4 linked regions of the Homo sapiens genome follow. The protein of the gene in region 3 purifies or fractionates together with the protein of the main gene of each other region. This does not show direct contact. Each region holds a gene or a part of one and is shown on either strand. Other genes may lie near its edges.

Region 1 (3,387 bases), on a different chromosome or scaffold from region 3:
TTTGAGCATTTCACATTGAGTTGAAAAGAACTGACATAGTGAGAATGGCACTACTGAAGCACCAGAATAAGTAATACACGTGCACCAATGTAAGCCTCATTTGAATATCTTTGTAAATTATAGTGACTATCTAATGAATCCTACTTACTACAGTACATTGATAAACATAGCTTATGTTATTCAATCTTCCCCCTTGTAGTCCTGACCTCTATTAAAAATGTCCCTAAATTTTTTGCCATCTAATTCTTCTTAAGACTTTTTCTCCTCTGTCACTGCTGGATAAGAAAAGTTTACTTCACCATATTTGTGATAAGACTATGCAAAGTTTAGTCAGTTACTATTAACAGATAAGAGTCACTTATAAAACTGGAGAAAAACTGTTACACCATTGCTTTCAAAACTGACAACTATAATATTTAAGAAAATCCTATTTTATAAAACAAAACCACCTTTTCTCCTTAAGACATATGTTTAAGGGAATACAAACCATAAAATCTAAAACCATATTAACCTGAATTCATATTTTAAAGAAAATAAAATTTCACTGTACCATTCAATGAAAGAAATACAAACCTCATGATGTTTCCAAAGAGATTTCCTATGAGACACAGTGAAGAGAGTGATGCCAACCTAATACAAAGAAAATGATTTAGGTTTAATGAGTAACAGAGTCACAAATTAAACTAGTCCATGTACTTTAAGCTGTTAAGAGGACAGTCTTCAGTGACTAAAGTTAAAAAGCAATGTCAATGAGAAAAAATTTACAACTGGATGCAAAATGTTTATAGCAATGGAAAGTACTGGCCATCAACCACATAATAAAAACTACCAGGTACTGGCATTAAGTGTATTATTTTCTTTTGGGCAAAAAACATATCTCCTATCATGTCTCCTATTTTATTGTGAAAAATATATGAGAGGAATATGAGAAGGATAAAAATAGCCAAAGGTCAAAATCAGGAAAAATTAAATCAGTATAGCATTGTTGACAGTCAACTTGCTTTTCAAATACAGGGTCATAATCCCCTACCGTAAACTACTGTTTTGGAATGTGTCTTGGAATTCAGATTTTGAAAATGTATTATTTAACACCCCCAGAGAGTTCTGAGGCAGAATTTTATAATTAAACACATAAATGTTTCTGTAGCAACACACATGGACACTGATATTGAGACATATAGAGTTTAAATATCTTTTGTTAGCTTAGGCGAAGTTTTACCCAGTGAGCTTGCTACAAAATTATGAAAAATGTTTTAAATTTAAGCACTTTCTGGATTTCAGATTGTGAATACGTATTTATAGATCTGTACTTCAGATTTTCAAAAAAAAAAAAACATTAATAGATAATAGCTGTAGTTGCTCTAGATCAGTGGTTCTCAACCAAGGTGGGGAGGTCAGTGATATTTGTCCCTCAGGGGGACATTTGGCAATGACTGGAGGCATTTTTATTTTCACAACTGAAAGCACTACTGCCATCTAATGGGCAGAGGCCAGGGATGCTTTCTAAACATCCTCCAGTGCACAGCAACCCTCAACCCTGCCCAACTAGGAATTAACAGTGAAAAGGTCAATAGTGCCAGGACTGAGAAACCCCACTCTGGGTCACTGTTCCTCCAAGTGGATCACTCAAGGCTGGCAAATGCATGCTTAGGGCATCTGGGAAATTTCCACCATGGTTTCTTAATTTTATTTTCATTTTGATGATAATTTTTAAAAGATCATTATAAGTATATTCTAGATCATTTTTACCATGAGATTCAAGTTCCTCGGTTTGTATCTACACCTCTGATTGCCAAAGTGATATAAAATAAAACTTCTAATGTGTAATAAGTTTGGCTGCACTGTAAAAAGGTTCTTAAATTGGTTAGGAATTGCATAATAAAATAAGCATATTATCAGTATTAATAAAACATATATTTCAACCATACCACACTTTTCTGATTTTTCAGAGCTCATTTAAGATATTATTTCTCTGTTTATGATACTACAATAATTGGATTAGACATCTACTTAATGCACACATTCTTTACATGAGGATATAAAAAATATATGAAGTATATAAGTCAAAATAAAAAGCAAAATGCAAAATAATGAAATTTGAACCTCAGATTCTATCTTTCCTTAATTAAATCCCAAACCACTGGTTTAGTTTCATCTAAACGGTATCATAGGTCTCTTTAATGTTGTAAATTTGAAACTGTATTTAAGTTTTGTCTGTATTTAATGTATTTAATGTGTAAGTTTATATTAGTTTTGTAGCTGTAAAAGAGCTCTAAGCTTAAGGAATTCACACCTCATCATGTTTATACATGTTTAAGTGGTATCACAGTAATTTAAATTATCAATGAGGCCCCATATGAATTTTCTTTTAAATGGAACTGATGTTTTATAGAATTTATACAGTCTTATGTGGGGACTTCAAGCCTATAGCTAGAGCATAAGAGGAAATCACGTGGTCAAAATTACCAGCAAAGAGCTGCTATGTCATTGAATCAACTGCAGACTACATGGTTTTATGTACATGAGAATACCATAAACATCTCTAATACCTATATATTTGAAAACCAACATGAACAAATGTATAATTATATATTACCAAAGCAAATTCAAGAATAGAAAATAAATCATTAACAAGATAAAATCAGTAGTTAAAATCTTTCTACAAAGAATAGCAAATTCTTTCATCATCACGCCAGTGCTTCTCAAACTTTAATGCGCATTTGAATCATCTTAGAATTTTGGTAAAATGCAGATTCTGATTTAGCAGGGCTTGAAATTCTGCATTTCTAACAAACCCCTAGGTGACACTGCTGCTGCTGATCATGAACACACTTGGAATAGTAGGAATTCATAATATATATACTCAATATGACCTTTTTTATTTATTGAGAACTCCCAAAGAACACATACAAAATGTTAAAAATCCTCATCTACCTCATTTACTTATATAGAAACTATAAAACAGCTAGGATATACTACATTTGTTCCAAAATTTAACCATAGTATAGATGTTGGTAACAATTTCTCAAAGAAAGAAAACTGATACTATTGAATAATTACTTAAAGAATGGAACCAATAAAGATAGCCTCAGACTTAGCTACTAAAAGCAGCTTTGGTAAAATATTGCTCAGGCTAGAAAATAAAACGGATAAATTAAAAATTGCCAAATAATTATTGTTGAGTTTTATTCATAAAAAAACTCTAATGTTTAGATAAAGTTAATGGAAAAATTAAGAAAAGGTCAGTTTATTAACTCTAAGTAATGAGGTAAAGTGAAATAGATTTAAATACGTTGTTTTATATAAATGAGGTATCTTTTATATCTTTTATCTTTTATATCTCATTTATATAAAACAACATATTTAAATATATTTCCCATATATAAA
Region 2 (3,500 bases), about 21 Mb from region 3:
TTTGAGACGGAGTTTCACTCTTGTCTCCCAGGCTGGAGGGCAATGGAGGGATCTTGGCTCACTGCAACCTCCGCCTCTTGGCTCACTGCAACCTCCGCCTCCTGGGTTCAAGCGATTCTCCTGCCTCAGCCTCCTGAGTAGCTGGGATTACGGGCATGCACCACCACGCCCAGCTAATTTTTCTATTTGTAGTAGAGATGAGGTTTTACCATGTTGGCCAGGCTGGTCTCGAACTCCCGACCTCAGGTGATCCACTTGCCTTGGCCTCCCAAGATGCTGGGATTACAGGCATGAGCCACCGAGCCCAGCCCAGTTTTGTTTTTTGGTGTTTTTTATGTTTTTGTTTTTTTTGTTTTTTGTTTTTTTTAATAGATATGGAGTCTTGCTATGTTTTCAGGCTGGTCTGCAACTCCTGGGCTCAAGTGATCCTCCCACCTCTGCCTTCAGCATGTTGCGATTACAGGCGTGAGCCACTGCTCCCAGCCCCAAGACAGGTTCTTGGATCCATTTCCTGGCTCCATCCCTGTCACCGCTGCCCAGGTTTAAGCTCTACTAGTTCTTTTTTTTTTTTATTTGAGACAGAGTCTTGTACTGTCGCCCAGGCTGGAGTGCAGTGACGTGATTTTGGCTCACTGCGGCCTGTGCCTCCTGGATTCAAGCGATTCTCCTGCCTCAGCCTCCCGAGTAGCTGAGATTACAGGTGCCTGCCACCATGCCCGGCTAATTTTTTTGTATTTATTTTAGTAAAGATGGGGTTTCACTATGTTGGTCAGGCTGGTTTTGAACTCCTGACCTTGTGATCTGCCCGCCTCGGCCTCCCAGAGTGCTGGGAGGATCACAAGGTCAGGAGATCGAGACCATCCTGTGAATGGTGAAACCCCGTCTTTACTAAAAATCAAAAAAAAAAAAAAATTAGCCAGGTGTGGTTGTGGGTGCCTGTGGTCCCAGCTACTTGGGAGGCTGAGGCGGGATAATGCCGTGAACCCGGGAGGTGGAGCCTGCAGTGAGCCAAGATTGCGCTACTGCACTCCAGCCTGGGCGACAGAGCGAGACTCCATCTCAAAAAAAAAAAAAGAAAAAAAATGGCCGGGCGCAGTGGCTCAAGCCTGTAATCCTAGCACTTTGGGAGGCCGAGGCGGGCGGATCACAAGGTCAGGAGATCGAGACCATCCTGGCTAACACGGTGAAACCCTGTCTCTACTAAAAATATTAGCCGGGCGTGGTGGCGGGCGCCTGTAGTCCCAGCTACTCAGGAGGCTGAGGCAGGAGAATGGCGTGAACCCAGGAGGCGGAGGTTGCAGCGAGCCAAGGTTGTGCCACTGCACTCCAGCCTGGGTGACAGAGCAAGACTCCGTCTCAAAAAAAAAAAAATTTATCTGGGCATGGTGGCATGCGCCTATGGCCCTGGCTACTTGGGAGGCTGAGGCAGGAAGTTCGCTTGTGCCCAGGAAGTCGAGGCTGCAGTAAGCTGTGTTTGTGCCATTATACTCCAGCCTGGGCCAAAGAGTGAGACCCTGTCTCAAAAAAAGACGGCCAGGTGCAGTGGCTTACACATGTAATCTCAGCACTTTGGGAGGCCAAGGTGGGCAGATCACCTGAGGTCAGGAGTTTGAGACCAGTCTGGCCAACATGGTGAAACCCCGTGTCTACTAAAAATACAAAAATGTGGCAGGCCCCTATAATCCCAGCTACCCAGGAGGCTGAGACAGAAGAATAGCTTGAACCCAGGAGGTGGAGGTTGCAGTGAGCCGAGATCGCACCACTGCGCTCCAGCGTGGGTGACAGAACGAGACTCCGTCTCAAAAAAAAAAGACAGATTAGGGGGCCGTGGGTGGGAGAGGACTAGAAACCTAGCAGTATGCTAGGTGATTCTGGAACATTTCTGTGTTGCAAAGCAGTCTATCGTTTAGCCTTTCTCTGTTTCTCTGCTCCACTCTGAACTTTTCATCTCCTCATAAAGGGTATGAGAAAATTCTCTTGAGTAGAATCCAGCCATCACTCTCTGTCACTAATGTTCCCTCCCTAATCATGCCATCAATACCAATCATCAATACCTGGGTTATCACAGTGGATTTCTTGCAGGAACATCCACGTCTGTGCTCATCTCCTTTAATCTGTTCCCTGTGCAGCAGCCAGTGAGATCATCCCTCTGCTTAGAACTCTTCACTAGCCTTCTGTCTCTCCCAGAGTAAATTCCAGAGTACCACTGAGGGCCCGACTTGGATCTGGTACTCCTTCTCCATTTGTGTCTCTTATATTAGTGGTTCCCTAACTTTGTAGCACGTTAGCGTCACCTGGGGGCCTTTTAAAAACCCTGATGCCCAGGTCATCCCCTTATTTAATTAAGTAAGAATGTCTGGGGAGGTGGTCCCTGGGGCTCCAGTAGCAGAGTTTGGGAGCTGCCTTCCTACCACTTGGCCTTTCATTCCCTGTGTTCCCTTCTGTCTACATTGGCCCCCTACTGGTCCCACCTCAGGGTCTTGTCCTCATTCCCCCTCTGCCTGGAAGGCTTCCCTTTGTAACTGTACGGTCTGGCTCCTCATGCCAGGCCACTGCTGCTAGATAAAGTGTCAGAGCTATGCAGCGTGACACGGTGGCTCACGCCTGTAATCCCAGCACTTTGGGAGGCCGAGGTGGGCGGATCACAAGGTCAGGAGTTCCAGACCAGCCTGGCCAATGTGGTGAAACCCTGTCTCTACTAAAAATACAAAAGTTAGCCGGGCATGGTGGCGGGTGCCTGTATTCCCAGCTACTCAGGAGGCGGAGGCAGGAGAATCGCTTGAACCTGGGAGGTGGAGGTTGCGGTGAGCCAAGATCGCACCCTTGCACTCCGGCACTCCAGCCTGGGCAACAGAGCGAGACTCTGTCTCAAAAAAAAAAAGAAAAAAAAAAGTGTCAGAGCTACCCTCCTTGACTAGCCTGTCTCAAAATGTCATTGCCTCCTCAGGTTCCCACGTGCTTGATTTGTCTTCTTGGTACTTAACTTGCATCTGATATATTTTTGTTTATTGTCTGGCTCTCTCAACTGACAAGTTTGGAAGAGTTCTCATTTTCTTGCTGTAACTTCAGTGCCTAGTACAGTGCTTGCGCACAGTAGGTGCCCAGTTTGTACTTGTTGAACAAGTGAACTAGGATTTATATACGACTTTGGCTTCCTGTGGCCTCTTAACCTATTGCTACCTCCTGGCACCTCTCCTTCCCTGTTCATTTGATTTTTTTTTTAACTAGGTCATCGATTCTGATTGAAAAGCTAGAAAGAAAGGCATTCCATGAAAACTCTCCCTGAGGCCCACTGTTCTCATATGCCCGTAGTTCACTTCTCTTCCTCGCTTCTTACAGTTTCTCCATGTGTGATTAAGCAAATGCAAGTACATCTTCCCCTCCGCCCTTTTTTATTTTTGACAGAGATAGGGTCTCGCTATGTTGCCCAGGCTGGTCTCAAACTCCTGGGCTCAAGTGATCCTCCCACCTCGGCCTCCCAAAGTGCAGGGATTATAGGT
Region 3 (3,500 bases):
AAAGTGCTGGAATTACAGGTGTGAGCCACGTTGCCCACCCTAGAATTTTTTTTCATGTAACAGCCCCCACACTGACTGCCCTCACCCAACTTTTCCCTTACCTTCGTCTCGGCCAGGTAGTCAGCCGAGGACTTGAGCTGCCAGGGGTTGGCAGCGTCAGGGTGGGGGTTGCGCTTGAAGAAGTGGTGGGCCTTGCAGGCGGCGTGCAACAGGTGTGGCTTGGGCAGGCCCTGGGTTTCGCAGATGTAGCGCACCTGGTCGTACTCGTTGTTGCCGGGGTAGAGAGGCCAGCCCAGGTGCAGCTCAGCCATGACGCAGCCCAGGGACCACACGTCCACCTTCTCGCAGAAGGGCAGCCCCAGCAGGATCTCAGGGGCCCGGTAGAAGCGCGACTGGATGTATGGCTCCTTCACGTAGCGCACCTCGCTGAAAATGCTGGCGGATCCGAAGTCAATCACCTGTCGGGGGTGGGGAAGAGGGCGAGTGGGCAGGTCAAGCAGCAGGGACAGCCGAGCTGGGCCACCCCGGCATCTTTCACCTGGCATCTTCCTGCATCTGCTATTTGACTCTGGCCATCTCTGGGTCTGTGATTCTTTAGTTGCTTTGTTGGTTTTTGTTTGTTTGTTTGTTTGTTTGTTTGAGACAGAGTCTCACTCTTGTTGCCCAGTCTGGAGTGCAATGGCACGATCTCAGCACACTGCAACCTCCACCTCCCCGGTTCAAGCGATTCTCCTGCCTTAGCCTCCTGAGTAGCTGGGATTGCAGGCGCCCACCACCACACCCGGCTAATTTTTTGTATTTTTAGTAGAGATGGGGTTTCACTATGTTGGCCAGGCTGGTCTCGAACTCCTGACCTCATGTGACCCACCCGCCTCGGCCTCCCAAAGTGCTGGGATTACAGGCGTGAGCCACCGCACCCAGCCTTTGTTGGTTTTTTTTTTTTTTTTTGAGACCGAGTCTCACTCTGTCGCCCAGGCTAAAGTGCAGTGGCGCAATCTTGGCTCATTGCAACCTCTGCCTCCTGGGTTCAAGTGATTCTCCAGCCTCAGTCTCCTGAATAGCTGGGTCTACAGGTGCACACCACCATGCCCTGCTAATTTTTGTATTTTTAGTAGAGACGGGGTTTCACCCTGTTGGCCAGGCTGGTCTTAAACTTCTGACCTCAGATGATCTGCCCTCCTCAGCCTCCCTAAGTGCTGGAATTACAGGCATGAGCCACCGCACCCAGCTGTGGCCGTAGTTGTTAAGTCCCTATCTCTGTCTCTTCCAGCCTTTGTGTCTGGTTCGAGTGACTGACTCTGTCTCTGTTTCTCTCCACTAGAACTATGCAAAGGAGGGTTAGGACCCTATTCTTCCTCTTGCACCCCACACCTTGTCCATCAGCCAACAGATCTAGAATCTGCTCCCTCTGCATGCCATCCACAGCCCCGACCCTGGTCCTATCCTGCATCCTTTCCAACCTAGACCAACGCGGGGGTCTCCTCGCTGGTCTCCCTGCTCCTCTCCTCTGCCCCCTAGTCTGTCTGTCACAAGCATCCAGAGGGATCCTGTGGCCGCCCGGGATAGATTGGGTCCTCCCCTGCTCATAGCCACATCCTGTGACAAAAGCCAAAGTCCTCACCGTGGCCCACAGGTCTCCAATGTCTGCTCTGTCACCTCTCTGCCACATCTCCCACTCTCCCCATCACTCACCCTCCTCCAGCCACAAGGGTCTCCTCACTATTCCTTGAACAAGTCAGACATTCCCAGCTCAGGGCTTTTGCACTCGCTGTTCCCTCTGCCTGGAATGCTCTTCCCTGCATGAGCACAGGGCTCCCTGCCTCACCTCCTTCAGGTCTTTACTCAAATGTCACCTTTCTATCAAAAGGTGAAAGGCAGGACAAAAAAAAATGATCACCTTCTCAGTGAGACCTTCCCTAATCATTCTGTGAAAGCATCAGCCATCAGTCCCCATCCTTTCTATCCCCCGCCAGGCCCCTGTTTTTCTTTTTCTTTTCTTTTCTTTTTTTTTTTTTTTTTTTTTTTTTTGAGTCGGAGGTTTTTGAGACAGAGTTTTGCTCTTGTCACCCAGGCTGGAGTGCAATGGTGCAATCTTGGCTCACTGCAACCTCCTCCTCCCAGGTTCCAGTGATTCTCCTGCTTCAGCCTCCCAAGTAGCTGGGATTACAGGTGCACACCACCATGCGCAGCTAATTTTTATATTTTTAGTAGAGACGGGGTTTCACGATGATGGCCAGGCTGGTCTCGAACTCCTGACCGCAGGTGATCCACTCGCCTCGGCCTCCCAAAGTGCTAGGACAGGCGTGAGCCACCGCACCCAGGTCCACCATTGCTCTTAATGCCATTTCACACACTATATCTCTTAATTTTTTATTTTAATTTTATTTTTTAATTATTTATTTTTTTGTGACGGAGTCTCGCTCTGTTGGCCAGGCTGGAGAGCAGTGGTGTGATCTTGGCTCACTGCAACCTCCACCTACTGGATTCAAGTGATTCTCCTGCCTCAGCCTCCTGAGTAGCTGGGATTACAAGCGCTAATCTTTTGCATTTTTGGTAGAGACAGGCGGGGTTTCACCATGTTAGCCAGGCTGGTCTCAAACTCCTGACTCAGATGATCTGCCCGCCTCAGCCTCCCAAAGTGTTGGGATTACAGGCGTGAGCCACGGCGCCCAGCCCTTTTTTCCTTTTTAGAGACAGGGTCTTGCTCTATCACCCAGGCTGGAGTACAGTGGCACCATCGTAGCTCACTGTAGCCGCGAACTCCAGGGCTCACAAGATCCTCCCGCCTCAGCCTCCTGAGTAGCTGGGACCACAGGCATGCACCTCCATACCCAGCTAATTTTTTAACTTTTTGTAGAGATAGAGATGGGTCTCACTATGTTGCCCAGGATGGCTCCTGGGCTCAAGTGATCCTCCTGCCTCAGCCTCCCAACATGCTGGGATTATAGGCATGAGGCCCTGCACCTGGCCTCTCTCAGCATTTCTCTCCCCAGCGAGGATGTCAGTCCCACGAGGGCAAAGAATTTATCCATTTTGTTCAATACTGTATCCCTAGATGCCTAGAACAGGGCTTGGCACACAGCAGGGGCTCAGTAAATAATGAGTGAATGAATGAATGTATGTATGGGCTTTGAGTTCCTTCATTCTCTTTCCATCTCTTGCTTGTATCTCTCTCTCTCTGTCTCTCATTTGAGACAGTGGCTCACCCTGTCACCCAGGCTGGAATGCAGTGGCGCAATCTCGGCTCAAGGCAACCTCCACCTTCCACGTTCAAGCGATTCTCCTGCCTCAGCCTCCCAAGTAGCTGGGACTACAGTCACATGCCACCATGCCCAGCTAATTTTTGTATTTTTAGTAGAGATGGGTTTTCACCATGTTACCCAGGCTGGTCTTGAACTCCTGGGCTCTAGTAATCCTCCCACCTCGGCCTCCCAAAGTCCTGAGATTCTAGGCATGAGCCACTGTGCCTGGCCATTTGTACCTCTCGTTCTTTCTTTGCA
Region 4 (3,500 bases), on a different chromosome or scaffold from region 3:
ATGCCGGACCCACAGGGAGCAAGGTCTATCCATTTATTGAGCTGCCCAGCAAGCTCACAACTCATCCATCCAGCACTCACATATGAATGAGCACCCACTACATGCCCATCTTCCTAGCACCAAGAGTGTCACAATGAACATAGCCAAGTCCTAGCCCATGAAGCCACATTCTAGTGGAGAGACCCTAATGAAGAGACAAATACACTGATGTGTGGAGGCACAAATGTCAGACAGAAAAACAAAACAGAGCAGGGGAGAGAAAGGGACCTGAAGGCTTCTCTCAGCAGAAGACAGATGGAGGTGAAGATGCAGGTGTCAGACGTTTGGGGGTAAGTTCTCCAGGCAAAGGCCCAGGAAGTGTGTGTGACGAATATTCAAGGGACAACCCAGAGGACATGAGCAAGGACAAGAGCAGCTCACGCAGCAGGAGTGGCCTGGATGCCCACATCCGTGTAACACCTCAGGTGATAAAATCCTAGACAAGTGCAATGATTTCTAACAGTGATGAGCACTATTAAGAAAATAAAACTGGAGAGTGGACAAGAGTGACTAAGAGGCTATGTTACTTTAATGGCATAATTTATACAAGTTGGCTACAGGTATAAACAGTTGCTCTTCCAACTACTAAGAAATAATTTATCACTTACTACTCTGGTCTAATCAGCTTTAACAAAGAGTTTAACACTTAGAAGTTTAAGCTATCAAATCATCAATTTGAGTCTTAAAAAAAGAAAATCACCATTTAATCTATACTTGAGTCTTCTTCCATCAATAAGAGGCGTTCCTTCTACAACCTTAAAAGAAAAAAAATTTACAAATTTACTAAGCACATCACCATCATATATACATATATACACACACACATATATATATTCTAGTATCACTTAATTTTCAACACGCCCAAGAAGGAAGATATCTTGTAACATGGAAATTTAGTAATATGTTTCAAAAACCCTAGTGGCAAGCCCTTTAATGACGCAATTCCACCTTCAGGAATTTATCTTAAATACAAATTCAGTAATGACTTCCTAGTGTAGGACCAAGCAACTGCAACAGCCACGCTCCCTGCCACACTCCTGTGTACCACCACCTCAAGACTAAATGTGCTTAAATACCTTTATATCTAGTGGATCCCTAGCTCAAACATCTACCAATGGCTACCATACTCTTACAAAGTAACAGTATGATTCCATTGTCTTCCATTTGTGGGGTCCTTTTCAATTGGGCTCTACCCTGTTTATCCACTCTACTATGACCCAAGTGCTATTTGATGACGCATACTCATATGCTTACTTGCTCTGCTATATATTATATATATATTGCCCATCCAGTTATTTAACCATTTCATGTGATTCTTTTATCTGCAATAAGAGACTGTGAGAAACCAGGTGTGGTGACTCATGCCTGTAATCCCAGCACTTTGAGAGGTCAAGGTGGGAGGATCACTTGAGTCCAGGAGTTGGAGACCAGCCTGGGCAACATGGTGAAATCCCCTCTCTACAAAAATACAAAATACAAAAACTAGCCAAGCCTGGTGGCACGCGCCTGTGGTCCCAGCTACTCGGGAGGCTGAAGTGGGAAGATGACTTCAGCCCAGGAGGAGGTTGCAGATTGCACCACTGCACTCCAGCCTGGGCAACAGAGCAAGACCCTGTCTCAAGAAAAAAAAAAAAAAAGAGAGAGAGAGAGAGAGACTGTGAGCACGCATCATGCATCAGAACCATCTCCTCTCTTCATTCGGCATCACTCACAGCATTCAGCACAGAGATACCCACAGGCATGGTACCCAATAGAACTGGCTCAGTAAAAAGTCCACTTGCTCAATGCAGCCACGTTTTACCCCACAAAATAACTATTCAGAAATGTAGCAATTCATTTCAAACTGTAAAATATAAATATAGTATCATTTGCTCTGGGCTAAACTACTTTATCTTATCATTAGCTACAGATTTCATTAGCTAGCATTCCTCCTCTCCCAAGAGAAACGTAAAAGCTGTTTGAGATCACAGGATTAGTAAAATGCCACATGCTAATTTCAGATGATCCTTATCTATTAAAGGAGTCTAGTAAATGCTGTGTTAGGCTTTAATCTGTGAATATATAGATCCAAATATACAGTCAGCCCTCCGTATCGACGGGATCCACATCCATGGATTCAACCAACCAGATCCAAAATATTTCGGAAAAAATTGCATCTGAGCTGAATATGTACAGACTTCTTTTTCTTGTCCTTATTCCCTAATACAGTATGATAACTATTTACATGGCACTTACGTTGTATTAGGTATTATAAGCAACCTAAAGGCAACAAAGTATACAAGGAAGATGCACACAGGTTATATGCAAATACTATACTATTTCTTATCAGGGCCTTCAGCATCCTCAGATTTTGGTATGTACAGGAGGTCCTGGAACCACTCCCCAAGGATATCAAGGGATGACTGCATAATATTAATATATATTTTAATATATATGCTTTTAGTCACTTTAGTCTATGAGTATATACATATATGACTTTAAACACCAAAACTGCTTTCCTTGATACTCTGAAATCACCTTACCCTAAATGAATCTGAATTTAACTGTAGAGGCTTACTGTAGAAATGACTGAAGGTCTTTATCACAAAAATCCTTGCTAGAGCCACTAAAGTTATGGTCTCACTCCACAGTATTAAGCCTGCAGCTCTACCCTCCTATCACTGGCATTCACCAGTAAAACCGATCCTTTGGTTTACAGACAGTTGGCAAACTTGCAAAGCCCTAAGAATAAGATCTTTAAATAAATTATTTATTACTTAGGGAATCTCATGTTTCTTTAAATATATCCAAGTAAAGGATTCTACTGAAAGAAGAAAAAACTACACTTAGCAATGGAGAGACAAATTTTAAAGATATTGCAGGAATCTGAAAACAACGTAAAATGTTCTTGACAACAAGCTTCTGAAAGAGATGAAAATTAGAAACTTTTCATACTTTTTTAAAGTAAAAGATGTAGACTAAAGTCCATCGAGCCCAGTAGCCTATCAATTAATCATTTAAAATGCTGCATCTGAAATGACACATACTAAGAGTGAATTTTTTTTCCATAGCAACCTCCACTGAGAGTCGGCTACTTTGCAAAATAGCCTATTCTTTTCTATTTGGTTTGAAAAGTTACACAAGAAATCTCAATCAGATTTTTTTTTAAGTTCCTCCTAATAAGCAAGTGTTATACAGACAGCACAAGAGAAATGGCTTCATGAACTAAGTTTTGGGAATTATGACCAACAACAGCCTTTAACCTTTAAACTACTCTAAGGCTGGGCAGCATGGCACAGGCCTGTGGTCCCAGCGACTCAGGAGGCTGCGGCAAGAGGATCACTTGATCCCAGAAATTGGAGACCCGCCTGGACAATATAGTGAGACCTCATCTTATTAAAACAAAACAGAATTACCATAAACGTACCTTTCCAATTGGCAGTAGGTAGAACAGGACTTGAATCAAAAACCACAGGAGGTAG

Evidence for each region.
Region 1: the proteins of HIPK4 (region 3) and ABCD3 purify together in Homo sapiens (affinity purification with mass spectrometry, with the first as the bait; one large-scale study listed by BioGRID). This does not show direct contact.
Region 2: the proteins of HIPK4 (region 3) and SUGP2 purify together in Homo sapiens (affinity purification with mass spectrometry, with the first as the bait; one large-scale study listed by BioGRID). This does not show direct contact.
Region 4: the proteins of HIPK4 (region 3) and LBR purify together in Homo sapiens (affinity purification with mass spectrometry; one large-scale study listed by BioGRID and IntAct). This does not show direct contact.

Annotation. Positions count from the first base shown.
Region 1 is NC_000001.11:94,512,389-94,515,775, reverse strand, and holds part of ABCD3 (ATP-binding cassette sub-family D member 3), read right to left. Parts: intron 631-3,387; coding exon 574-630; intron 1-573. UniProt on the Homo sapiens protein: Broad substrate specificity ATP-dependent transporter of the ATP-binding cassette (ABC) family that catalyzes the transport of long-chain fatty acids (LCFA)-CoA, dicarboxylic acids-CoA, long-branched-chain fatty acids-CoA and bile acids from the cytosol to the peroxisome lumen for beta-oxydation.
Region 2 is NC_000019.10:19,027,018-19,030,517, reverse strand, and holds part of SUGP2 (SURP and G-patch domain-containing protein 2), read left to right. Parts: intron 1-3,500. UniProt on the Homo sapiens protein: May play a role in mRNA splicing.
Region 3 is NC_000019.10:40,383,682-40,387,181, forward strand, and holds part of HIPK4 (homeodomain-interacting protein kinase 4), read right to left. Parts: intron 459-3,500; coding exon 102-458; intron 1-101. UniProt on the Homo sapiens protein: Protein kinase that phosphorylates human TP53 at Ser-9, and thus induces TP53 repression of BIRC5 promoter. May act as a corepressor of transcription factors.
Region 4 is NC_000001.11:225,414,539-225,418,038, forward strand, and holds part of LBR (delta(14)-sterol reductase LBR), read right to left. Parts: coding exon 3,446-3,500; intron 795-3,445; coding exon 740-794; intron 1-739. UniProt on the Homo sapiens protein: Catalyzes the reduction of the C14-unsaturated bond of lanosterol, as part of the metabolic pathway leading to cholesterol biosynthesis.